Homo sapiens: one gene and its partners. The protein of the gene in region 1 interacts with the protein of each later gene in a pairwise test. Each region holds a gene or a part of one and is shown in the gene's direction. Other genes may lie near its edges.

Region 1 (6,355 bases):
GAGGGCCAGAAAACACAGATAGTAACAACAAAGAGAGGAACTGAAATCATTCTCCTACCCTGTGGAGAAGGTTAACAGCTGTTCATTAGCCTTTAAAGAAGTCACATTGTTACAATTCCGTTTACTTCTTGATCTCCTGATTCTACATCATATTTTTCTATTGTACTCAACCTATTTCCCAAATGGGTTTGAAGCAGTTCTTGAACTATCAACAAGAAAAGTCCCATTTTAAAGAAGAAAGGGTAGATATTTTAGAATGCTATCAGAAATATTCCAGTTTTTTTTTTATTTTGATGATGTAAGGACAGGACTTTAGTTATATGAGATTGATTTACGTGTCATTTCTTAATGATAAAAGAATATTCTTAACTTGCACCTCTCTATAGAACCTTGATTTTTGGTTTTGGAATTGCCTGTTTACTTATAAACAGTAGATTGAAGATAAATAAGTAAAAAAGCACTGATGGACAAGGAATTCTGAAAATATTTTAAAACAACCATGGAAACTGTTTATATTATTCCAGAAGATCACAATAAAATACAATTTTCCTTCAAAATATCACTCAAGGAGCAAATGGGAATGAGTAAAATAAGTAAATTTCACATGGGGCATACAGATCTCAGTGGGATTTTACATGTCGATTCTAGATAAGTTAACATTGACTTTAAAGACCTAACCACCTTTAAAAGTCTAATGTTTTCAGTCTATGCACAATTGTTTCAGTAACGTTTATTTAAAGTCATATATTTTGCAGTATTTAAATTAATGGATATAGTTTTAGAAAGGAAATGTATTTTTTGGGTTTTAAAGTTTCAGATCAACTGTATCTTAAATTTATCACACTAAAATTTAATAAAGATAAATGAAGCCATCATCTACATTTTTGAAAGACAAGAATTAAGTTTGATTGAGAAAGATGTTTTTAAAACTTTGAAACTCATAATTGCTCTGTTTTTGCTGTTGTTAGTGGCATAAGAAGGGACTGGCTGTGTTATTCTGCATATTGCAGTTCTTGTCAATGACCTGGTAAGTCTTTCCTTACCCTAGTGAAGTGTTAAAATTGCCTGAGACGTGACGAGCATTTTGTTTGGGACCTGTGAAGCCCTAGCATTTCGTCTGGTGTTTTGGAGCCAGACAGGCCCTGCAGGGTCAGAGGAGGGGAGGTCTGCGATGAGTCCTGTTGCACTTGACAGCGTGGCTCAGTGGTACTGTTCGGGAGAAGTATGGGGTGCTGTGCTCGTAGAGTTACATAGTGATATGTTCTGCTTTTTTCTAATGTGAGAAAGAGAAATAATAAGAAAAGTAGGTGATGCCATGTGAGTACATAAAAGTGAGACCAAATCACAGGGTGAGTCCAAGGGAAGATGAGTTTACCTGCATTCTCCACTCTATTGCTGGATAAATACAACGTGGAATTTATCCTGATGTTGACTCTGTGGCCCTGTGATATCTGGAGATGTCTTCTGAATTGGCAGTGATTAAATACTTCTTAAGTTACTGGTTGAGCATCCCAAATCCAAAATGCTTCAGGATCCAAAACTTTTTTTTTTTTTTTTTGAGGCAGAGTCTCACTCTGTCACCCAGGCTGGAGTGCAGTGGCATTATCTTGGCTCACTGCAACCTCTGCCTCCCGGGTTCAAGTGATTCTCGTGCCTCAGCCTTCCAAGTAGCTGGGATTACAAATGTGAGGCACCATGCCCAGCCCCAAATCCAAAACTTCTTGAACGCTGACATGATGCTCAGATTTGGTTGATACTCAACCAGTAAATGTAATGCAGATATTCCAAAAATCCAGAAAAATCCAGTATCCAACACATTTCTAGTTCCTATCATTTCAGATCAGAGGTGCTTCACCTGCACTGCCTTTCCCAGTCCACTTTTGTGAAGATTCAGTCATGTCCTGGTTTCTGCTCAGACTGTCCTCCTTGTAGCCTTTTTGTGTCTCGCACAGTAAGAGTTCATCTGCATAAAGGCCATAAATATCTGGGTGGTTGATTAAACGTGCCCTGCAGCTCCTGCGCTCTTCTGTGTTAGTGAAGAGTACTTTTCCTTTTCCTTTAGAGCAGCTCTTGCTTCCTAATTTTTGCTTCCTGGTTTTGCCATTTTACATTCCTCTTACTCGACATTACCCAGTTTGGGATCACCTTTCTTTCGGCCTTCTTTCTACTGACAGATGAAACATCAGTGAATGTTAAATGTAATTCTCTGTATATCTCAAATTCACCATAAAATGTTCTTTACTTTTTTTCACTGATATGTGAAGAAACTTAATCTCTTGGTTATTTTCTCTAGTATTTTGCCTTTTATTGCCTAATTTGTAACTAATAATTGATTTATCCCTAAAGGAGACTATAATTATCAGTTGTGGTACAGTTTCTATTTTATTATAAGAAGCTCAAACTTTAGCATGCACCAGAATCACCTAGAGAGTTTGTTTAAAGTGCAGGTTGCTTGTTAAAGCAAGCTTGTGATTTAGGAGGTTTAAGGTAGGACCTAATAATTTACATTTTTAACAAGTTCCCAGATGATGCTCTCACTGCTGGTCGGGGTCACACTTTGAGAACCACTGTACAGTCTCATGCTGCTGTATTTATTATAAGGTTAGACATGGCCTTTTGGCATAAAGGAAAACCATCATTCAGATGAAGATTCAACATGCTTGAATATTTCTTGCAGGTATAGCCTGTCGTACATCCCATATGCAAGGTAAGCTTGTTTGAATCTTGTCTTCTTTCTGGTTCTTTACTTATCTTCACACAAATATATGAATTTAAGTAATTTTTACATAAAAATACTATTTAAACCCTTTTTTTTTGGTTGATTTTAATTTCCTAAAAGGAAATAAACATACTTTTTTTTTTTTTTTTTTTTTTGAGACAGAGTCTCACTGTGTCGCCAGGCTGGAGTGCAGTGGCACCATCTCGGCTCACTGTAATCTCTGCCTCCTGGGTTCAAGATTCCCCTGCCTCAGCCTCCTAAGTAGCTGGGACTACAGGCGCGTACTGCCATGCCCGGCTAATTTTTTTGTGTATTTTAGTAGAGACGGGATTTCACCATGTTGGCCAGGATGGTCTCAATCTCCTGACTTTGTGATCCTACCGCCTCAGCCTCCCAAAGTGCTGGGATTACAACCGTGAGCCACCGCGCCCGGCAGTAAACATGTTTTCAATGAGATGAATAGCAGCTTGCCATGATAATGTCTGTATGGAAACATTTTGGCGACATGGAGCAGCTCTGTGGGGAGTATCCTCCCGCCCTGCTGCCTGGCGTGCACTAGGGAATGTGGATGAGATTCTGGACCCTTCCATGGCTTTAGGAGTTCAGAAAATAGGACACAGAGACTCCAGGAAAACAAATTCTACTTAAGAAAAGGAAGTTACGGCTGGGTGCGGTGGCTCACACCTGTAATCCTAGCACTTTGGGAGGCCAAGGTGGGCAGATCACTTGAGGTCAGGAGTTCAAGACCAGCCTGGCCAACATGGCAAAACCTCGTTTCTACTAAAAAATACAAAATTAGCTGGGTGTGGTGTGGGCGCCTGTAATCCCAGCTACTTGGGAGGCTGAGGTGGGAGAATCACTTGAACCCAGGAGGCAGAGGTTGCAGTGAGCCAAGATCGTGCCACTGCACTCCAGCCTTGGTGACAGAGCCAGACTCCATCTCAATAAAAAAGGAAGTTACTGGGAAAATGAGGGCTTACACATAAATGCTTATTTTTGGTCAGCAAAAACATTTTAATTGTATGTCAAGAGGTAACCGGCATTTTAAAATATTTTTCCAGAGAAATGTATTTAGCCGTGGAGGAGAAAACAAAACTAGTTCCAATTTTAAATCTGATAGATTTAGAAAAAGATTCTGGTGAGGCACAGCTTTGCCTGTTTGTGAAATTCAAAGATATGTTATATATTTAAAAACAGCAAAATTGTCTTTAATACGAACAGTGAAGGAAATTGGTAGAAATTTTATTTTTATTCCATTTCAAATGTATGATTCTTTCTGATAGATACTTACAAGGAGAAAAAGCAAAACAAAGTTAGCTACAGGTGAGAAAGCTGCTTAACAGGAGTGTGCAAGGGTAATTTACCATGCATAGGAACTTTAGAGCAAGGAGACCTCCAATACTTCTTGGTGCGGAGGAAAGGACCTCTAGACGTGATGTCCCATACAAGAGGCTCTGAAGAGATGGCAGGACTTCAAGAACATGACCAGCCTCTCCAGACACAGGATCCCACACTCGAGAGCAATAAGCAATGTACAGATTTTGCCTATAAGAATTTTATTAGTGGATATTTTTTATGGCCTAGGTAAAAGCTTTTTTAATGAATGAAGTATCAAGTAATAACAGTTTTGGAAGAAAATATGAAAGGTCACACTTCAATCTTCTTTTAATTCTGAGGATTCAGTTATAAACATTACAGTTTTGAAACTCAGTTCATTAGTTCTTTTTTTTTTTTGAGATGGAGTCTCATTTTGTCACCCAGGCTGGAGTACAATGGCGTGATCTCTGCTCACTGCAACCTCCACCTCCCAAGTTCAAGAGTTTCTCCTGGCTCAGCCTCCTGAGTAGCTGGGATTACAGGCACGTGCTGCCGCTGCCACGCCCAGCTAATTTTTGTGTTTTTTAGTAGAGATGGGGTTTCACCATGTTGGCCAGGCTGGTCTTGAACTCCTGACCTCAAGTGATCCACCTGCCTTACAGGCGTGAGCCACCTTGCCTGGCCTAGTTCTTTTTAAAAATTAAATCTTTGGGCTGGGCTTGGTGGCTCATCCCTGTAATCCCAGCATTTTGGGAGGCTGAGACGGGTGGATGGCTTGAGCGCAGGAGTTTGAGACCAGCTTGGGCATCATAGCAAGACCCTATCTCTATTAAAAAAAAAAAAAAAAAAATTAGTGTAGTGGTGTGCCCTATAGTCCCAGCTCCTTGGGAGGCTGAGGTGGGAGGATCTGCTCACGCCACTGCACTTATCCTGGAAGACAGAGTGAGAACCTGTCTCAAAAGGAAAAAAAAAGAAAAAAGTTAGATCTTTTGTTAGGTTATTTTTGGTATTTAAACTTATTTCTTTGATTGAGATCAGTGTATATGCCAGTAAAAATTTCTTAAGATAAATACCATGTCAAAAATCAGCAAAATGTTTTCAAATCTTAGCTCTTAATCTTAAATGATACTGAACAAAGTTTTTATTAATCAAAAAGTGTGTTGGAGCATCCATTGAGTTCTGTTAAAAAAGGTGATTTAGCAGGAACATTTTGCGCAACTTTGCTTTTGAGGAATATTATATTCTGTTTTTTTCCCTCTCTTTTCCACCAGGGATGCAGTTATTAAATGCTGTTCTTCTCTCCTAAGTTGAAAATCAGAAACTTGTGGAAAAGAGCACTTGAATGTTGGTACTCTATGTTTGGTGAAGTTTGCTTTTCCCCATAAAACACTCCAGGAACAACTGACGTGACAGTTGAAGACCGTTTTGTACTAAGTCTCATTTTGTATACTGGTAAAAACTACATGCTTGATTAAACCATTAAATGCTTGTAACTTTAAATTCATTATGTGTCATTAATATACTTTTCCAAAGATAAGATTTTTAATCACTGCCAGTTGTAAATTATTTTTAGCCAATTTTTAAATCTTTTCAAAGCAGCTTTGAAATGTGAATATTTAAAGGTAGACCTGTGCTGCAAGATAATTAAACTTTTTTGCTTTTAAAAAATGTCTGCATTTTTAAGATTTTTTTTACTTTAAATGTGAAACTTATTTTAAGCTAAAAATTGCTTATTATATGTAATAAAAATAATATATAAATCTTTACAATTTTGAAATAAACCCATCCTTGGAAAAATAACATTTTCTGAATCAAATTTATAATATTTTAAGTGACTCAATTCAATAATATTTAGTTTAGGCACTATACAGTCTCTCTGTAGAAAAATGAGGAAGATACAGTCTCTCCCCTAAATAATACTGTTAAATACAAATTGTGAGAGATAATGGGACTGACAGCAGAGCCCATTCCAGGAAGTGCAGGGGGAGGAGGTGAGGCGGCATTGACTGTGAGGGTGTCAGGAGAAGTCAGGCCACTGGACAGTAGTGGCAGCAGGAAGCTACCTTCACCCCAGGCTGGAGGAGAAGCAGAGAGGGCGGAGAACTAGCCAGCGCCCTCCTCCTCCCTGCAAGTCTCCCACTGGCTGTCCTGGTCTCCTCAGTTGCCAGGGAGAGGCAGATAGGCGGGTGCCAGCATGATGTGGTGCCAGCAGGAGGGAAGGCGGCTCTATGTCTGTCCAGGGTAGGGAGAGTTAATAAAGAGCATACAACAGGGTAATGGGAGCAGCATTTTATGCACAGTCAGCTTAGAGGAGAGCTG
Region 2 (7,908 bases), on another chromosome or scaffold:
TGCCCAGGCTGGAGTGCAGTGGTGCGATCTCGGCTCACTGCAAGCTCCGCCTCCCGGGTTCACGCCATTCTCCTGCCTCAGCTCCCGAGTAGGTGGGACTACAGGCGCACGCTGCCACGCCCGGCTAATTTTTTGTATTTTTAGTAGAGACGGGGTTTCACCATGTTAGCCAGGGTGGTCTCGATCTCCTGACCTCGTGATCCACCCGCCTCGGCCTCCCAAAGTGCTGGGATTACAGGCATGAGCCACTGTGCCCGGCCTCTGCCTTCTCTTTTTTTTTTTTTTTTTTTTTTTTTTTTGAGACAGGGTATCATTCTGTTGCCCAGGTTGCAGTACAGTGGTGCAATCACGCCTCACTGCACTGGATCTCCTGGGCTCAAGCAATCTTCCCACCTTAGCCTCCCAAGGCACATACCACCATGCCCAGCTAATTTTTTATTTTTTGTAGAGATGGGGGTCTCACTATGTTGTCCAGGCTGTTGTCGAACTCCTGGACTCAAGCAATCCGCCTGCCTCAGCCTCCAGTGTTGGGATTACAGGCGTGAGCCACCACACCCAGCCAAATATACTTTCTACATCTTTAGTGCTTCTAAGAAGTAAGATAGATTTGGAGGTATGTGCTGATCCTGAGGACAAGTGGAAAATATTTACATGTAGTTTAAAGTTACATGTAGTTTAAAGCTATAAAAACAATACCTTCTGAACTAGGACTCTAGTCACCTTGGAATTTCTATTCCAAAAGTGGAGTTAAGCTGAGAATTTCCTAAAATTTTACTAAGGGCCTAGGACACCCTTCACTGTGGATTCCCTTTTTCCTGCACTTCTGTGGAAATCTAGCTTTATTTTGTGCACACTTTTTTCCTTAACCTTAATCTGGTAGAGAAAAGTCGGAAGACGCCTCTTTTCTTGGCTTTCTATTGGACCCACCTCTTTTACCCTATATCAAAGGCCTATTTGGCCACAAGTATCAGAATCTTATAACCTGACACATTATGACCAATCTGGTCCCTGAGAGGCAGTATGGCATAGCATAAACAACAAGGGCTTTGCATTCAGATAGACTGGGGGCTTTACTTCTTTGAGAATCATTTTCCTGTTTTAAAGGGAGTATACTTGACATAGTTGTTTTAGGAATTAGGTGAAATAGTGAAGGCATAGCACCGGGTGTTCAGTAGTAGTCTAGGGTGGAGGGGCAACAGCCCAAGTTTTAAGAATAGATGTTTCAAGCCAGGCATGGTGGCTCACGCCTGTAAACGCAGCACTTTGGGAGGCCAAGGCAGGTGGATCACCTGAGGTCAGGAGTTCAAGACCAGCCTGGCCAACATTGTGAAACCCCATCTCTACTAAAAATACAAAAAAATAGCCAGGTGTGGTGGCGGGCACCTGTAATCCCAGCTACTCGGGAGGCTGAGGCAGGAGAATCGATTGAATCTGGGAGTCGGAGGTTGCAGTGAGCCAAGATCGTGCCATTGCACTCCAGCCTGAGCAACAAGAGTGAAACTCCATCTCAAAAAACAAAAAACAGGCCGGGCACAGTGGCTCACGCCTGTAATCTCAGCACTTTGGGAGGCCAAGGTGGTCGGATCACGAGGTCAGGAGTTCGAGACCAGCCTGACATGGTGAAACCCTGTCTCTACTAAAAATACAAAAATTAGCCGAGCGTGGTGGCGCGCACCTGTAATCCCAGCTACTCAGGAGGCTGAGGCAGAAGAATCACTTGAACCCGGGAGGCAGAGGTTGCAGTGAGCCAAGATAGCGCCACTGCACTCCAGCCTCGGCGACAGAGCAAGACTCTGACTCAAAAAAAATTAGCTGGGTGTGGTGGCGTACACCTGTAATCCCAGCTACTGGGGAAGCTGAGGCAGGAGGATCACTTGAACCCAGGAGGCGGAGGTTGCAGTGAGCCAAGATCATGCCACTGCACTCCAGCCGGGCAACAGAGCAAGACTTCACCTCAAAAAAAAAAAAAAAAAAAAAAAAAAGAATAGATGTTTCCTAGGCTGACTAATGGATTAAAATTCCCCAATACTGAGGCATATGCTAGTCACAAGTCCGAAGTTGTAGAAGAACCAGTAACTCATGAATTGGCCTTAGCTTGCTCTTGCACTTGCTTACTTGCTTGCTTGCTTCTTACAGAGGGCGGATGGAATAACTCAACATTCCTTCCTTCCTCCACTGCAACACAAGTTACATAGGTGATGATGTGGTAGTTGATTGATCGGCATCCCCTCAGCACCCAGCTCACTGCATTGCACACAGTAAGCAGTTAGTAAATGAGAGCATCAAATCAATACCGTGATTGGTACATACTTGATTCAATAATTATTGGGCACCTACCATTTTGTTGCCTGCAATACACCTTTCCCCTTTTGGTGCAGAGGCATGAGAAGAATTCTGCCTGTTGCCACCCTTTCTGAATGCCATTTAAAAATTCTTAACTACCTTCTCCAAACCACACACACACAAGTTATCTTCCTCTCCCACACTCTTGTCTCTTTCTCTTTGTATTTCAGGGTGTCTACCAGAAGATGGACCCAAGATCCATGGAGGCTCCTGTGACTCAGATCAACTGCCCTGCCCGGGAAACCTGGTCTCTCCGGAAACCTTGATTAAACTGCTTTTTCTGACACCTCTTCCTCTACAACCCTTGATTCTATCACCATTGAAACTTCAGAACCAACTCTAACCATCCCCACCTCCAGGTGAGGGGACTAATGAGAATTACTGACAGCCTGATGGCTACCCCCAAGTCAGTTTCCCTTCATACTTTACTACAAATCTGACCATGTTCCCATATTTACTGAGTAAATTTGATGAAATTTACCTAGTCCTGTGTCCTAGATGTATCAGGGAGAGGGAAGAGAAAGGATAAAGGAAGTTGAGAGCTGGGATAGGAATTAGAGGCAAAGGGCTTATGTAGGGAGCAGAGAGCTAAAATTCTAGTCAGGCACCTCTTTCTGAGGTGATGGGGGAGTATACTGGGAGCAAACTCTTCTAGAGAAAGCATGGTGTGGTAAAAGAAAACCAAGCTTGGATTCAGAAATCACCATCAGCACTTGCTGTTTGACCTTAAATTCCTCATCTGTCAGATTAAAAGGTCTCGGCCGGGCATGGTGGCTCACGCCTGTAATCCCAGCACTTTGGGAGGCTGAGGCAGGCGGATCACCTGATGCTGGGAGTTCGGGACCAGCCTGACCAACATGGAGAAACCCTGTCTCTACTAAAAATACAAAATTAGCTGGGCCTGGGGTGGCACATGCCTGTAATCCCAGCTACTCGGGAGGCTGAGGCAGGAGAAGCGCTTGAACCTGGGGAGGCGGAGGTTGCGGTAAGCCGAGATCACGCCACTGCACTCCAGCCTGGGCAACAAGAGTGAAACTCCATCTCAAAAAAAAAAAAAAAAGATTAAAAGGTCTATAAAGTCCCTATTAAGCACCATGAGTATAAAGGGACTCAAACTGACCTCTGCAGATTCTTGATTCCAGCTTTTTTGTTTTTGTTTTGTTTTGAGATGAAGTCTCGCTCTTGTCCCCCAGGCTGGAGTGCATGGCGTGATCTCGGCTCACTGCAACCTCCACCTCCCGGGTTCAAGCGATTCTCCTGTCTCAGCCTCCCAAGTAGCTGGGATTACAGGCGCCCACCACCATGCCCAGCTAATTTTTGTATTTTTAGTAGAGACGGGGTTTCACCATGTTGGCCAGGCTGGTCTAGAACTCCTGACCTCAGGTGATCCACCCGCCTCGGCCTCCCAAGTAGCTGGGATTACAGGCGCCCACCACCACGCCCAGCTAATTTTTGTATTTTTAGTAGAGACGGGGTTTCACCATGTTGGCCAGGCTGGTCTAGAACTCCTGACCTCAGGTGATCCACCTGCCTCGGCCTCCCAAAGTGCTGGGATTACAGCGTGAGCCACTGCGCGCGGCCATCTTTGCTCCAGCTTTAAAGTGGTTACTCCAGAGGCTGAGGTGGTCAGTTGAGCCCAGGAGGTCGAGACTGCAGTGAGCCATGATTGTACCCCTGCACTCCAGCCTGGGCAACGGTGAGACCTTGTCTCAAAATTAAAAAATAAAACTGTTACAGTCATTTATCATAATAGCTTCTTGTTGCTTTTGCCCATTACCAAAAAACCATGGGCCACACTAGACGATTTACATAAAATTTAACTCAACAATTGGGAGCAACACTATTCTCATTTTATAGTTGAGAAAATTGAGGCTTAGAGAAATTAAATAGGTCAGGCAAGGCGGCTCATGCCTGTAATTCCAGAACTCTGGGAGGCCGGAGCGCGGTGGCGGTTTGGTGGGGGGGAGGGGAGGGATTGCTTGAGGCCAGGAGTTCGAGACTACCCTGGCCAACATAGTGAGACCCGCCCCCCCCTCCCGCCCCCCCCGGTCTCTATTAAATAAATATGAGAAGTTTAATAATTTTCCCAAAATTACATAGTTAATGGCAGATCCAGAATTTACACTAGGTCTGTCTGGTTCCCCAGTCTATGCTCTTAAGTTTTGCTACTTGCTGTAAGGACCACGTAAAATAAAATGTATAGTTAAAGGGAAATTACTACCATTTCCTGTCTGGTTTTCTCCCACTCTCGCCCTCAAAAGTTCACCTGCCCTTGTCCTCAAAGCCACAGGACGCCTAATTGCTATTTTTGGGTTTCAGCTGAAACGCCACGGGTCTGGGGGAATAGCGAGGGTGTGTTACATTTTCGGTCTTCCGGTCAGCCGGAACCACTCACACCGCTGCTGGTGCTGTGTAGGGTGTACCTCTTCGGAGTTCCTGGAGGTGGTGCCAGACTAGAGTGGCAGCTGTAGTAACCAATAGACACGGACTTTGTTGGACCAGAAGCCAATGAAGAATTACGTGGAGGAGAAGCGGCGATAATCTGTTTGAGGATGTAGGCACTGGTGTGAAGGAACATGGCCCTGTATCAGAGGTGGCGGTGTCTCCGGCTCCAAGGTTTACAGGCTTGCAGGCTACACACGGTGCGTGAGGCACCCCCAAAGCTCCGATCCGCATCAGACTTAGCCCAGCCGAAGCCCCCAAATTTTTATGTTAACCCAGCCTCACGCCACTCCTCCTCTCCCTGGTCCTCCGAGTCCCCAGAAAAGGACTCGTATCTAAACTCGTTATCTAATTCTCGAGTTAGCGGTCTGGGGGACTCTGAGCTCGAAGGACCCCCAGCCTAGGGTCTTGTATCACCCAATCCCCTTAAAAAGTAGGAATTCGGACGAAGTCCACTTAACCATCCCAAAGTGCCATCATCTGCAATTCTAAGAAAGAATGATGGGACGTGTGTTACCTGCTAATATATCTTTCCCTCCAGGCAGTTGTGTCGACCCCTCCACGCTGGTTGGCAGAGCGGCTTGGCCTTTTTGAGGAGCTGTGGGCTGCTCAGGTAAAGAGATTAGCAAGCATGGCACAGAAGGAACCCCGGACTATTAAGATATCACTTCCTGGAGGCCAGAAAATTGATGCTGTGGCATGGAACACAACCCCCTACCAACTAGCCCGGCAGATCAGGTAACAGGCCCATCCTGTAACTACCAGGATTATCCTTCTGCCCCTTTACTTTCTCTTCACTTGAGCAGGGGAAGAAAACTTGGTCTGCTTGTTTCTGTTCCGTCCCCATTAAGATAGCCTTTCCTGAAGATTTTGTTTTTGTTTTTTGTTGTTGTTCTTTTATACAGACGGGGTCTCTCCATGTTGCCCAGGCTAGTCTTGAACTCCTGGGCTCAAGCGATCCTTCCATCTCAGCCTCCCGAAGTGCTGGGATTACAGGCATGAGCCACCAAACCCGGCCTGAGATTTGTTTTATCTGTATTAGTTTCTGCATCAGAGTCTCTGTCCTTTCATTGGGGAAAGAAATGAAAGCTTCTGTTGCTCTGGTAACTCATTTCACCTTTGCAAGTTTACAGTTGCTGAGAGATGAGCAACTTTCTCCCCACTGTGGATTGTAACCCTGTCTGTTTTAAATCATTAATTTACTTTTTAATAATTGATACATAATAATTGAACATATGAATGGGTATATGTGATATTTTGATATATGCATACAATATGTAATGATCAAATCAGGGTGTTCAGGATATCTGTTACCCCAAACATTTATCATTTCTTTGTGTTGGGACTATTTCAAATCTTCTAGCTATTTTGAAATATACAATAAATTATTATTAACTGTATTCACCCAACTCTGCTATGGAACATTAGAGCATATTCCTTCTGTCTAACTCTATTTTTGTACCCATTAGCCAACCTCTTCATCTCCCCTCCCCCATCCTTTCCAGCCTCTGGTAACTATCACTCTATTCTCTACCACTGTGAGATCAACTTTTTAAACTCTCATATAGGAATCAGAACATGTGATATTTTCCTTTTTGTGCCTTGTAACCCTGTCTTTTTCTTCATCCCCACCTTCCACTGCTGAAGTTCAACACTGGCAGATACTGCAGTGGCTGCTCAAGTGAATGGAGAACCTTATGATCTGGAGCGGCCCTTGGAGACAGATTCTGACCTCAGATTTCTGACATTCGATTCCCCAGAGGGGAAAGCAGTAAGTTTCTTTCTTATCAGGAATACAGTGACTACTAAACCAAGAGATATTGAAGCAGGAAATTCTAACATTTTATTCTTTTGCCGCAGTTTCTCCATTTGCAGTTGGGAGGGAGACCTACCACAGACTGTCTTGACTATTTCTGGTTAGGAAACTTATGGTGAAAGTTTTTAACTTAGCTTCGATCTATTAAGCAAACATTTGTGCTAGTGAGAGGGAGAGAGATGATATGTTGAAAAAACGAAAGGATAAATATGTAAATTCAGCCCCCTCAACTCTTGAGCACGTACATTATAAGTCATCTGTAGTGTATATTCAATTCTAACATGGCTTATACAGCTGAGCAAACAACCTGGTCACCTCCCCACCTTGTCTTCTTCATGTCAGCTCAGGTAGCACAGACCTTGCCTATTAGGATCCAGAAAAATAGAGTTCTCCTGCCATCTATGTGTAAATAGTGACCAAATCCAAGAGGAATATATCGCACTAGATTCGTGGGACAGAAAAAAATAGGACTAAAAGACCAAACAGAGACCTAAGTAACCACTGTGTTAAGAAGATAGCTTATTCTGGCCAGGCACAGTAGCTCACGCCTGTAATCCCAGCACTTTGGGAGGCCGAGGCAGGTGGATCATCTGAGGTCAAGAGTTCAAGACCAGCCTGGCCAACATAGTAGAAACCCCGTCTCTACTAAAAATACAAAAATTAGCTGGGCGTGGTGGTGAGCACTTGTCATCCCAGCTAATTGAGAGGCTGAGGCAGGAGAATTGCTTGAACCCTGGAGGCGGAGGTTGCAGTGAGCTGAGATCGCGTCATTGCACTCTAGCCTGGGCGACAGAGCGAGACTCCGTCTCAAAAAGAAAAATTATTCTGAAGCCCTAAAAGCTTACAGGAGCAGCAGAAGACTGACTGGCCTCCAGCTTCTATGCTTTGGAACTGGGAAGAACCAAGGATTGAGGGGTGGGGCTGGAGCTTCTATGCACTGAAAGAAGAAAAAATACTGGCCTTCTTTCTTTTCTATTCAGTCTTTTTTTTTTTTTTTTTTTTTTGAGATGGAGTCTCACTCTGTCACCCAGGCTGGAGTGCAGTGGCGCGATCTTGGTTCACTGCAACTTCCACCTCCCGGGTTCAAGTGATTCTCCTGCCTCAGCCTCCTGAGTAGCTGGGATTACAGACACACGCCACCATGCCTGGCTAGTTTTGTATGTTTTAGCAGAGACAGGGTTTCACCATGTTGGCCAGACTGGCCTCGAACTCCTGACCTCAGATGATCCGCCTGCCTTGACCTCCTGAAGTGTTGGGGTTACAGGCATGAGCTGCTGTGCCCAGCCTTTTTTTTTAAGCTTGTTACT
Region 3 (7,037 bases), on another chromosome or scaffold:
AGACTCCATCTCAAAAAAAAAAAAAAAAAAAAAAAAAAAAGAAAGCCAGAACACTTGAAAATAAGTGAATGAATCTTTCAACTCAGGGAGATAGTAAAATGAGAATAAAACATAAAAGGAATTGATGAAGATAAGAGGGATAGGGTCAGTAAGAAAAGTAAGGGGTAAAGGAGTGAGGGAGTGCACAAGAGAACACTATTTTGTTTTTTGAGATGGAGTTTCGCTCTTGTTGCCCAGGCTAGAGTGCAATGGTATAATCTCCGCTCATTGCAACCTCTGCCTCCCGGGTTCAAGCACTTCTCCTGCCTCAGCCTCTGGAGTAGCTGAAATTACAGGCATGTGCCACCACGCCCAGCTAATTTTGTGTTTTTAGTAGAAGCTTGGTTTTACCATGTTGGCCAGGCTGGTCTCGAACTCCTGACCTCAGGTGATCACCTACCTTGACCTCCCGAAGTGCTGGGATTACAGGCGTGAGAGACTGCTTTTTGCCTATGAATTAAGAAAGCTCTTGTGATACTTAAGGTTCAGATATCTAGTTTTTTTTGACAATATAGTGTAAAGTTGGTAGGTATAGAGATTGTTAGAATCGTTTTGCAGGGCATTTTGGCAATACCTGCTGAAATAAATTATGTTTTTATCCTTTGATGTGGTATTTTCAGTCTTTGGAATTTGCCCTGTGGAGATGTTTACATAAGAGTGTAAGGGTAATAGGGATGTTAATAGCATTCTTTTCTTCTTTTTTTTTTCTTGAGATAGAGCCCCTCTCTCTCATCCAGGCTAGAGTGCAGTGGTGTGATCTTGGCTCACTACAGCCTCGACCTCCCAGGCGCAAGCTATTCTCCCACCTCAGCCTCCCAAGTAGCTTGGACTGCAGGCATGCGCCACCATGCCCGGCTAATGTTTATATTTTTTGTAGAGCTAGGATTTCACTATGTTGCCCAGGCTGGTCTTGAACTCCTGGGCTCAAGTGATCCCCCTGCCTTGGCCTCCCATAGTGCTGGGATTACAGGTATGAGGCACTACATCCGGTCCCCAGCATTCTTTTTAATGTTGAAAAATTGCTAATCTAAATTTTTTACTCATATCGTGGAATATTATATAGCTGGTAAAAAGGAAGTAGATCTGTGTGTATGCCATGAACTGACAAAGCAAGTGGCAGTACATTTCACATTTATTAAAAAGTAAAGTAAAAAGTATAGTATAGATTATGTTTTAAATATTACATATCTATTATGTATGTAATTTTTAAAAATATATATTCCTAGTGCATGTCTCAAGTGGTTTGGGGCAAAGCCTGAAGACTTGTTTTTTAAACAGATCTTTTCAGGAATTCTGATGCCAGCCCAGGTTTCAGAATCATTGCAATGTTGGATTGCCTTAAATAAAGTACCCTTTTTCTTTTCTCCAGGGCCTGGAAATTTACACTCCAAGATTCTAGGACAAACACAGTAAGTTGCTAATGGCAATCACCAATAATTTTTTTTTTTTTTGACAAGGTGTCACTCTCACTCAGGCTTGAGTGCAGTGGTGCTGTCTCACCTCACTGCAGCCTCTACCTCTCGGGCTCAAGTAGTCCTCCCACCTCAGCCTCCCCTTCCCAGTAGCTGGGACTATAGGCCCATGCTACCACGCCCAGCTTATTTGAAAAAATTTTTTTGTAGAGACGAAGTCTCACTATATTACCCATGCTGGTATCCAACTTCTGGGCTCAAGTGATCCTCCCACTTTCGCCTCCCAAAGTGCTGGGATTACAGGCATGAGCCACCACACCCGGCCACCAGTAATGTTTTCACATGGTCTTGTGTAACAATTGGAGAATGGGGAAAACGGGTTTCTTGACCATCTGGCCACGAATGGGCAGGTAGTGCTGGGCAGGGCGCCTTTTGCCAACAGTGAGCAAGCTGGGTTTGTCAAATGTTTGGCAGGAGGCACCCTGCTCTTACAGGCATGCTTGTTCCAGTGTTGCTTTCTAGAAATGCTTGTATTTCTCAAAGTTCTGCAACACTTTGAATTGTGCTGTGGTTTGCAGTAAAGGCTTAGAAAGAACTGCAGGATCCTTTTCACGCATGGGAGCTCAGCCTGTGAAACAAACATTTTTGTGACTTGTACTTGTCTCTCGTCCTGTTTCTGGCCTTAGGAGGTCACTGAGACAGTGAACCTCATTTGTAGAGCCTCGTAATGCTGTCTTTATCTGTCAGTGATCAAGGGAGTGTGTTACTCTGGTCAGAGTTTTCATTCTTTAGATGGGATTTTTCTCTCCTTTATTAATCTGTAAGAAAAGAAGAAGGTGGATCAAGCTTACAGAAGAATGTGTGCATGTGGGAGAAGAAAGTAAAAGGCTTAATATCCTAATAGCGTCAGTGTTCTCTTCCTTTGTTAGCACACAACAACTTCATTCTAAGCTTACTCTACAGCCGCAGTTACCTTTTCTTCATGAAAATCCCCCTTTTTTTTTTTTTTTTTGGGTAAAATTAGCATTAACAATCCATACAGTTAAGGGCAAGCTCCCCAAATGATTCTTTGTGTGGATTTTTTTTTTTTGAGACAGTCTCACTCTGTCGCCCAGGCCAGAGTGCAGTGGAGCGATCTCGGCTCACTGCAACCTCTGCCTCCTGGGTTCAAGCAGTTCTCCTGCCTCAGAATCCTGAATAGCTGGGATTACAGGCACGTGCCACCACGCCCAGCTAATTTTTGTATTTTTAGTAGAGATGGGGTTTCATCATGTTGGTCAGGCTGGTCTCAACTCCTGACCTAGTGATCTGCCTGCCTTGGCCTCCCAAAATGCTGTGATTAAAGGCATGAGCCATTGCGCCTGGCCACTTTTTCTTTTTTTTTAAAGAGCTAACATGTTTTTCTTTAAATTATACTGGGGAGTAATTTAATGAAGAATTTTGTTTTTTAAGGTAAAAAACAGACTTATGTATAGGACATATCTCTTGATACATTTTAGATTGTAGAGTTTTTATTTGTGAATAAAGGACTGTTGAGAGTGCTGTAACATCTTTATTTTTTTGGAGACAGTCTCGCCTTGTTGCCTGGGCTGGAGTGCAGTGACTTGATCTTGGCTCACTGCAGTCTCGAGCTCCTGGGCTCGAGTGATCCTTGAGACTTAGCCTTCTGAGTAGCTGGGGCCATAAGCACCATGCCCAGTTAATTTCTTGTTTTTTGTAGAGATGAGCTCTCCCTCTGTTGCCTAGGCTGGCCTTGGAACTCCTGGGCTCTAGTGATCCTCTCACCCAGCCTCCCCAAAGTGTTGGGATTATAGGTGTGAGCCATTGCACCTGGCCTGATGTAACATCTTTTAAAAGGCATTGGGTAACAGTGGGGCCTCTGAGTGCCTTCCTGGCTGTGAGAGCTGTAGTCCTGTTAGGGGCCGAGTGAGGACCACTTTGCTCTTGCATTTAGAGGATACCAGAATAGGGGTGGGGGCCCCCACTGGACTGGGGGAGTTTTTCCTGTTTTGCAGAGAGCTATGTATCTTTTTGTTTTTTTAAATTTTTAATTTGCTAAATAAAAGGGACAATGCACAGCATCGAGCACACAGCTGCTGGGAAGCTGTCCTGTCCTCACCCTCTCCTGTCTCCCGCAGGCGTATGTGGGCTCTGCAGTCATGACCGATGAGACATCCGTGGTTTCCTCACCTCCACCATACACGGCCTATGCTGCACCGGCCCCTGAGGTAGGGAGAACCCTGAGCCTCCAGGTGAGGGAAGTTTGGGGTCTCTGCTGCTGTCCTGCTTTGTTTTGTTTTTTTAAATGAAATTAGAAATGTACTCTAAACCTTTTCTTCTTAAAACAGATGATTTCTTATCAACGTTTGTTTTCATGAAATGAAGCAACTATTTTATATAGTTCAGCACATTATAATGTGCTGTATTAATGTGTAACACGTTTTTAAGATAGATCTAAAAATGCATCATGTTAATGATAGTTGCCTTGGGTAATGAGATTTTGATGATCTGTAGTTTATATGGAATGAATTATTTGAATTCTCCTTATAGTCAGAAAAAAATGCTATATTTTAGGGAAAATAACCTTAAAAAATCATGTCAAATACATTGGGATGTCCTCTTGTTGGGGTGCTGACTGAGCTAGTGGAACGTATGTAAGTCTGTTGTGTGGAACACGCAGCTTTTAAAAAAATTGAATTTTGAAATAATTATAGATTCACAAGAAGTTGCAAAGATAGCTTTGAGAGTCTCATGTGCTTTTTATGTGTTTTCCCCATTTGTTAATATTCGATCAAATTAAACCCAGGAATTTGGAATTGGTGTGGTATTTAAGAGTAATCCTGTGTCATTTTCTCATACGTGTAGATTGTGTAGCTACCACCTCAATCAAGATAAAGAATTCTTCACAAAATCTTCCTGCTGTGACACCCTTTAATAGTCATGCCATCCCTCTGCTTCCCTAAACCCTGTCAATCACTGAACTGTTCTCCAGCTCTATAGTTTTATCATTTCAACAATGTCATATAAATGAAATCATATAGCACGTGGTCTTGGGAGTTTAACGTTTTTCACTCAGTATTTGCCCTTGAGATCTGTCCAAGTTGCTCTTTGTCAATAATCCTTTTTATTGCTGAGTGGTTTTTTTTTTTTTTTTGGGATGGAGTCTTGCTCTATCGCCCAGGCTGGAGTGCAGTGGCTCGATCTCGGCTCACTAAAAGCTCCGCCTCCTGGGTTCTCGGCATTCTCCTGCCTCAGCCTCCCGAGTAGCTGGGACTACAGGCGCCCGCCACCACGCCCGGCTAATTTTTTGTATTTTTAGTAGAGACGGGGTTTCACTGTGTTAGCCAGGATGGTCTCAATCTCCTGACCTCATGATCCGCCCACCTCGGCCTCCCAAAGTGCTGGGATTACAGGTGTCAGCCACTGCACCCGGCCCTTTTGAGATGGAGTTTCGCTTTTGTTGCCTATACTGGAGTGCAGTGGCACGATCTCGGCTCACCACAACCTCCACCTCCCGGGTTCAAGCGGTTCTCCTGCCTCAGCTTCCCAAAGAGCTAGGATTACAGGCATGAGCTGATTTATTGGCTTTTCCTTTTCTCGGTTGTGCTTTTGCTGTCAGGTTAAAACTTAACATGACAAACCTAGCCCAAGTTTCCTAAGATTTTCTCCTACATTATTTTCTGAAAGTTTTATAGTGAGGTTTTATAATTATTCTGTATTAATTTTGAATTAATTTTTTATAAGATAGATGTCTTTTTCAGGGCTCTGTTGAGTGTATCTCTTTCTGAGGTCTGTGGTCTGCTCCATTGTTCTGTATTGTTACCTTCCTTTGATCCCACACAGTCTTAATTATTGCAGCTATTATAAAAAGTCTTGGAACTGGGTGGACTGATCAACACCCTCTTTGTTCCTTTTTGGAAATGTTTTAGCTATTCTGGTTCCATTAGCTTTCCATATACATTAGAATAAATTTGTTTATATCTACAATGAAATCTTGCAAGGCTTTTGCAGGAATTGCCTTAAACCTGTGTCATATTTATTTGGAGAGTAATGACATCTTTATTGAATGTTGAATCTTCCAGTTATAAACATGGACTGCATGTGTATTTAGATCCTCTTTGATTTTTTTCATCAGCATTTTGAGGTTTTCAGTATAAAAATCCCATACATGTTTTGTTAGATTTATAAGTGTTTCAGTTTTTTTAGTGATTGCATATGGTATTACATTTTTAGTTTTAGTTTCCTTTGTTTACTGCCAGTATAGAGAAATAGAATTGATTTTTGTAGGTTGATCTTGCAGCTTGTAAACTTTCTCTTTTTTTTTTGAGACAGAGTGTCTCTCTTATTGCCCAGGCTGGAGTGCAGTGGCGCGATCTTGGCTGACTGCACCCTCCGCCTCCTGGGTTCAAGCGATTCTCCTGCCTCAGCCTCCTGAGTAGCCGGGATTACAGGCACGTGCCACCACACTAATTTTTTGTATTTTTAGTAGAGATGGGGTTTCACCATGATGGCCAGGCTAGTTTCAAACTCCTGACCACAGGTGATCCACCTGCCTTGGCCTTCAAAGTGCTGGGATTACAGGCATGAGCCATGGTGCCTGGTCGGCGCCTGTAAACTTTCTAAGCTCACTTACTCTATTTCCTTTTTCTGTAGATTCTTTGGGATATACTACATAGGCAATCATGTCATCTACAAATAGGAATCTGTTTTCTTTGTAACCTTTATGCCTTCTGTTTCCTTACCTTGCCTTGTTGCCTTGGTTAGACCTTCAAATATTATGTAGAATAGCAGTAGTGAGAGAAGACATCCTTGCCTTGTTCCTGATTTTAGGGGGGATGTATTCAGTGTTTTTTTTTGAGATGGAGTCTCGCTCTGTCACCCAGGCTCTGGAGTGCAGTGGCGAGATCTCGGCTCACTGCAAGCTCCGCCTCCCGGGTTCACACCATTCTGCCTCAGCCTCTCTAGTAGTTGTGACTACAGGCACCTGCCACCATGCCCGGCTAATTTTTTTATTTTTTTTATTTTTAGTAGAGACGGGGTTTCACCATGTTAGCCAGGATGGTCTCGATCTCCTGACCTTGTGATCCACCCACCTTGGCCTACCAGAGTGCTAGGAATACAGGCGTGAGCCACCGCGCCCGGCCAGTGTATTCAGTTTTAAGTATGCATTCATTTATTATGAATGTACTGTTTAATTCAGTATTTAATTAGTACTGAATTCAGTATTTAGTTTTACATATGCATATATTTAGTATTTAATGCATTCATTAAGTATGCTGTTAGCTGGAGGTTTTTTATATTTATTCTTTATCAGGTTTAGAAATTCCCTTTTTCTAGTTTCCAGGAGTGTTTATCATGACTGGTTGTCAGTTGCTTGCCTGCCTGTCTTCCTGCCTCCTCCCTCCCTCCCTCCCTCCCTCTCTCCTTTCCCCCGCCCGTCCCCTCTCCTCCTCTCCTCTCCTCTCTCCCCTGACCCCCTGAGAGATGAGGTCTCACTCTCTTGCCCAGGATGGAGTGCAGTGGTACTATCATTAGCTCACTTCAGCCTGGAATTCCTGGGCTGAGGCAATCCTCTTGCCTCAGCCT
Region 4 (3,065 bases), on another chromosome or scaffold:
TCTCGGTCCATCTAAGGGTCCGAGGCACAGCCCCGCCAAGAGGCCACAACTGTCAGCTGCTTCCGCGGGAAGGGTGAGGGCTACCGGGGCACAGCCAATACCACCACTGCGGGCGTACCTTGCCAGCGTTGGGACGCGCAAATCCCGCATCAGCACCGATTTACGCCAGAAAAATACGCGTGCAAGTGAGGTGGGGGGGGGGGGCGGGCGTTGGGACGTGCTGCTGCGGGTGAGACGGGAGGAAGGTAGTCACGGGCTCAAGGCTGGAGGCTGGCGGGCTAGGGCTGAGTGGAGCGCCTGCTTAGAGACCTTCGGGAGAACTTCTGCCGGAACCCCGACGGCTCAGAGGCGCCCTGGTGCTTCACACTGCGGCCCGGCATGCGCGCGGCCTTTTGCTACCAGATCCGGCGTTGTACAGACGACGTGCGGCCCCAGGGTGAGGCCCAAGCTTGGGGGCTACAGAGCCGGGCTGGAAGCCTGGAACCGGAGGGCCGGGGCGAGGTCTCGGCCTGATGGCTGCCCGCACCCGCCACAGACTGCTACCACGGCGCAGGGGAGCAGTACCGCGGCACGGTCAGCAAGACCCGCAAGGGTGTCCAGTGCCAGCGCTGGTCCGCTGAGACGCCGCACAAGCCGCAGTGAGTCCCTGGTGCTCCCGGCCCCGCCAGGGCCCTAACCCTGGGGCGGCATGCTTTGGTGTCTGGGACCAGAGCCTGGAAATGGTTGAGACTACCCTGCCACGATTTTGCTCCCGCTTCCGCCTAGGTTCACGTTTACCTCCGAACCGCATGCACAACTGGAGGAGAACTTCTGCCGGAACCCAGATGGGGATAGCCATGGGCCCTGGTGCTACACGATGGACCCAAGGACCCCATTCGACTACTGTGCCCTGCGACGCTGCGGTGAGCACTAGTGACGCTTCCCCCATGACCCTGCCTCAGCCCCCACCCAAAGGCTGGCTCCCTTAACCCCAGTGAACTTTGTCTTTCAGCTGATGACCAGCCGCCATCAATCCTGGACCCCCCAGGTTAGGAGTTGGGCCAGTTATGGGTCAGGCCCTTTAGCCCACGACATCCACACAGTCTGGGTTTCATCCAGCCCACCCCATCCTACAGACCAGGTGCAGTTTGAGAAGTGTGGCAAGAGGGTGGATCGGCTGGATCAGCGGCGTTCCAAGCTGCGCGTGGTTGGGGGCCATCCGGGCAACTCACCCTGGACAGTCAGCTTGCGGAATCGGTGAGGCACAACTGCCTGTCTCCCACAGAGAGGAGCTGAGGTTGTGTCCTCTGTGGTTATCCCACTGGGGGCTGGGAATCTATCCCTGCCCCCAGAGGTCCTAGCCAGAAGATGGCAGGTCTAGCATCTGTCCCAGGAGTCTGTTACCTGTCCTAATTCCCCACTCCTCTAGGCAGGGCCAGCATTTCTGCGGGGGGTCTCTAGTGAAGGAGCAGTGGATACTGACTGCCCGGCAGTGCTTCTCCTCCTGGTGAGCCTCCCTTGTGTTTGGGGACCCAGTCTCATCCCACCTTCCCCCTTCCCCAGGCAAGCTAACAAGTGAGCCTTGGGGCAATGGACTGAGAGTCACAAATGACCTAGCAGAGCTTCTCTCCCAGCCATATGCCTCTCACGGGCTATGAGGTATGGTTGGGCACCCTGTTCCAGAACCCACAGCATGGAGAGCCAAGCCTACAGCGGGTCCCAGTAGCCAAGATGGTGTGTGGGCCCTCAGGCTCCCAGCTTGTCCTGCTCAAGCTGGAGAGGTATGTGGACAACCTGGGAGGGTGTGAGGTGGGGCTGGGCCTTGTGGCCTCAGACCCTGAGTGCCCCCATTCTTGCTAAAGATCTGTGACCCTGAACCAGCGTGTGGCCCTGATCTGCCTGCCCCCTGAATGGTATGTGGTGCCTCCAGGGACCAAGTGTGAGATTGCAGGCTGGGGTGAGACCAAAGGTAAGAGCACAGTGCACAGGACTGCTGGTGGCCAGGAGGCCCAGCCCTGGATCTTCCTGCAGGACCCTCTCCCTCTCCCCATTCCCCTCACTGCAGGTACGGGTAATGACACAGTCCTAAATGTGGCCTTGCTGAATGTCATCTCCAACCAGGAGTGTAACATCAAGCACCGAGGACGTGTGCGGGAGAGTGAGATGTGCACTGAGGGACTGTTGGCCCCTGTGGGGGCCTGTGAGGTTGGTGGCAGGGCCCTGGGCCAGCCCTGGAAGGGTATGGGGGGCTAGAAATGAACTATTTTATCATGAAGCAGGCTAGTCATTGCTGTGGCCCGGGGCCCTCATCAGTTCTCCTACCTGCCAGGGTGACTACGGGGGCCCACTTGCCTGCTTTACCCACAACTGCTGGGTCCTGGAAGGAATTATAATCCCCAACCGAGTATGCGCAAGGTCCCGCTGGCCAGCTGTCTTCACGCGTGTCTCTGTGTTTGTGGACTGGATTCACAAGGTCATGAGACTGGGTTAGGCCCAGCCTTGATGCCATATGCCTTGGGGAGGACAAAACTTCTTGTCAGACATAAAGCCATGTTTCCTCTTTATGCCTGTACAGATGCTTCTTAGCCTTTGCTTCCAGGAAATGTGTCAGTGACTCCTTGCTAGGGCTCGGGTGGCTTGAGCCCAGCACACCCTGGGCTAGGTGATCTGTCCAGCCTAGGGGCTTCCCCAACCAAGGCAATGTCCCTGGGACTACTTTTGCCCATGGGTGCCGTGGAAAGACAGGGCCTCACACTAGTCCTCCAGACATACTCTTGGGAAGGGTGGTACAGAGTAGTTGCTAATGGAAGGGGCTGCAGCAGGGAAGCTAGGCTGGTACAGAGTCCTGGTTGCCAGGACAGGCAGAGGCTAAGCCTCTCACTGTTCCCTCCCTTCTCACACTGGAGGCAGATGAAGCCCTTGTGGCTGCCACACCCAGAACCTAGGGTCTCTGCACCCCAGAGTGGGAGGTGGGGTTGGGGATGGTTTGGTACAAAGTACCAGCAGGAACCAGGCTCTGTGTCCTAATTTATTATGACTACATAGCCCACATTCCTCTGCCCACGCATCCGTGGAGTCCAGAGCCC

What was found.
Region 2: the proteins of SFT2D1 (region 1) and TARS2 interact in binary tests that used the Homo sapiens proteins (3 or more experiments, as listed by UniProt).
Region 3: the proteins of SFT2D1 (region 1) and PLEKHB2 interact in binary tests that used the Homo sapiens proteins (3 or more experiments, as listed by UniProt).
Region 4: the proteins of SFT2D1 (region 1) and MST1 interact in binary tests that used the Homo sapiens proteins (3 or more experiments, as listed by UniProt).

What each region holds. Positions count from the first base shown.
Region 1 is NC_000006.12:166,319,209-166,325,563, reverse strand, and holds the end of SFT2D1 (vesicle transport protein SFT2A), read left to right. Parts: intron 1-968; coding exon 969-1,027; intron 1,028-2,677; coding exon 2,678-2,707; intron 2,708-5,307; coding exon 5,308-5,347; 3' UTR 5,348-5,836; downstream 5,837-6,355. UniProt on the Homo sapiens protein: May be involved in fusion of retrograde transport vesicles derived from an endocytic compartment with the Golgi complex.
Region 2 is NC_000001.11:150,482,532-150,490,439, forward strand, and holds the start of TARS2 (threonine--tRNA ligase, mitochondrial), read left to right. Parts: upstream 1-4,887; 5' UTR 4,888-4,919; coding exon 4,920-4,985; intron 4,986-5,326; coding exon 5,327-5,523; intron 5,524-6,432; coding exon 6,433-6,556; intron 6,557-7,908. UniProt on the Homo sapiens protein: Catalyzes the attachment of threonine to tRNA(Thr) in a two-step reaction: threonine is first activated by ATP to form Thr-AMP and then transferred to the acceptor end of tRNA(Thr). Also edits incorrectly charged tRNA(Thr) via its editing domain.
Region 3 is NC_000002.12:131,129,313-131,136,349, forward strand, and holds part of PLEKHB2 (pleckstrin homology domain-containing family B member 2), read left to right. Parts: intron 1-1,408; coding exon 1,409-1,448; intron 1,449-3,589; coding exon 3,590-3,679; coding exon of another isoform or gene 3,680-3,703; intron 3,704-7,037. UniProt on the Homo sapiens protein: Involved in retrograde transport of recycling endosomes.
Region 4 is NC_000003.12:49,683,433-49,686,497, reverse strand, and holds the end of MST1 (hepatocyte growth factor-like protein isoform 1 precursor), read left to right. Parts: intron 1-16; coding exon 17-185; coding exon of another isoform or gene 186-190; intron 191-305; coding exon 306-436; intron 437-535; coding exon 536-638; intron 639-765; coding exon 766-902; intron 903-991; coding exon 992-1,027; intron 1,028-1,115; coding exon 1,116-1,236; coding exon of another isoform or gene 1,237-1,276; intron 1,277-1,408; coding exon 1,409-1,486; intron 1,487-1,542; exon of another isoform or gene 1,543-1,613; coding exon 1,614-1,760; intron 1,761-1,841; coding exon 1,842-1,948; intron 1,949-2,044; coding exon 2,045-2,184; intron 2,185-2,308; coding exon 2,309-2,470; 3' UTR 2,471-2,551; downstream 2,552-3,065.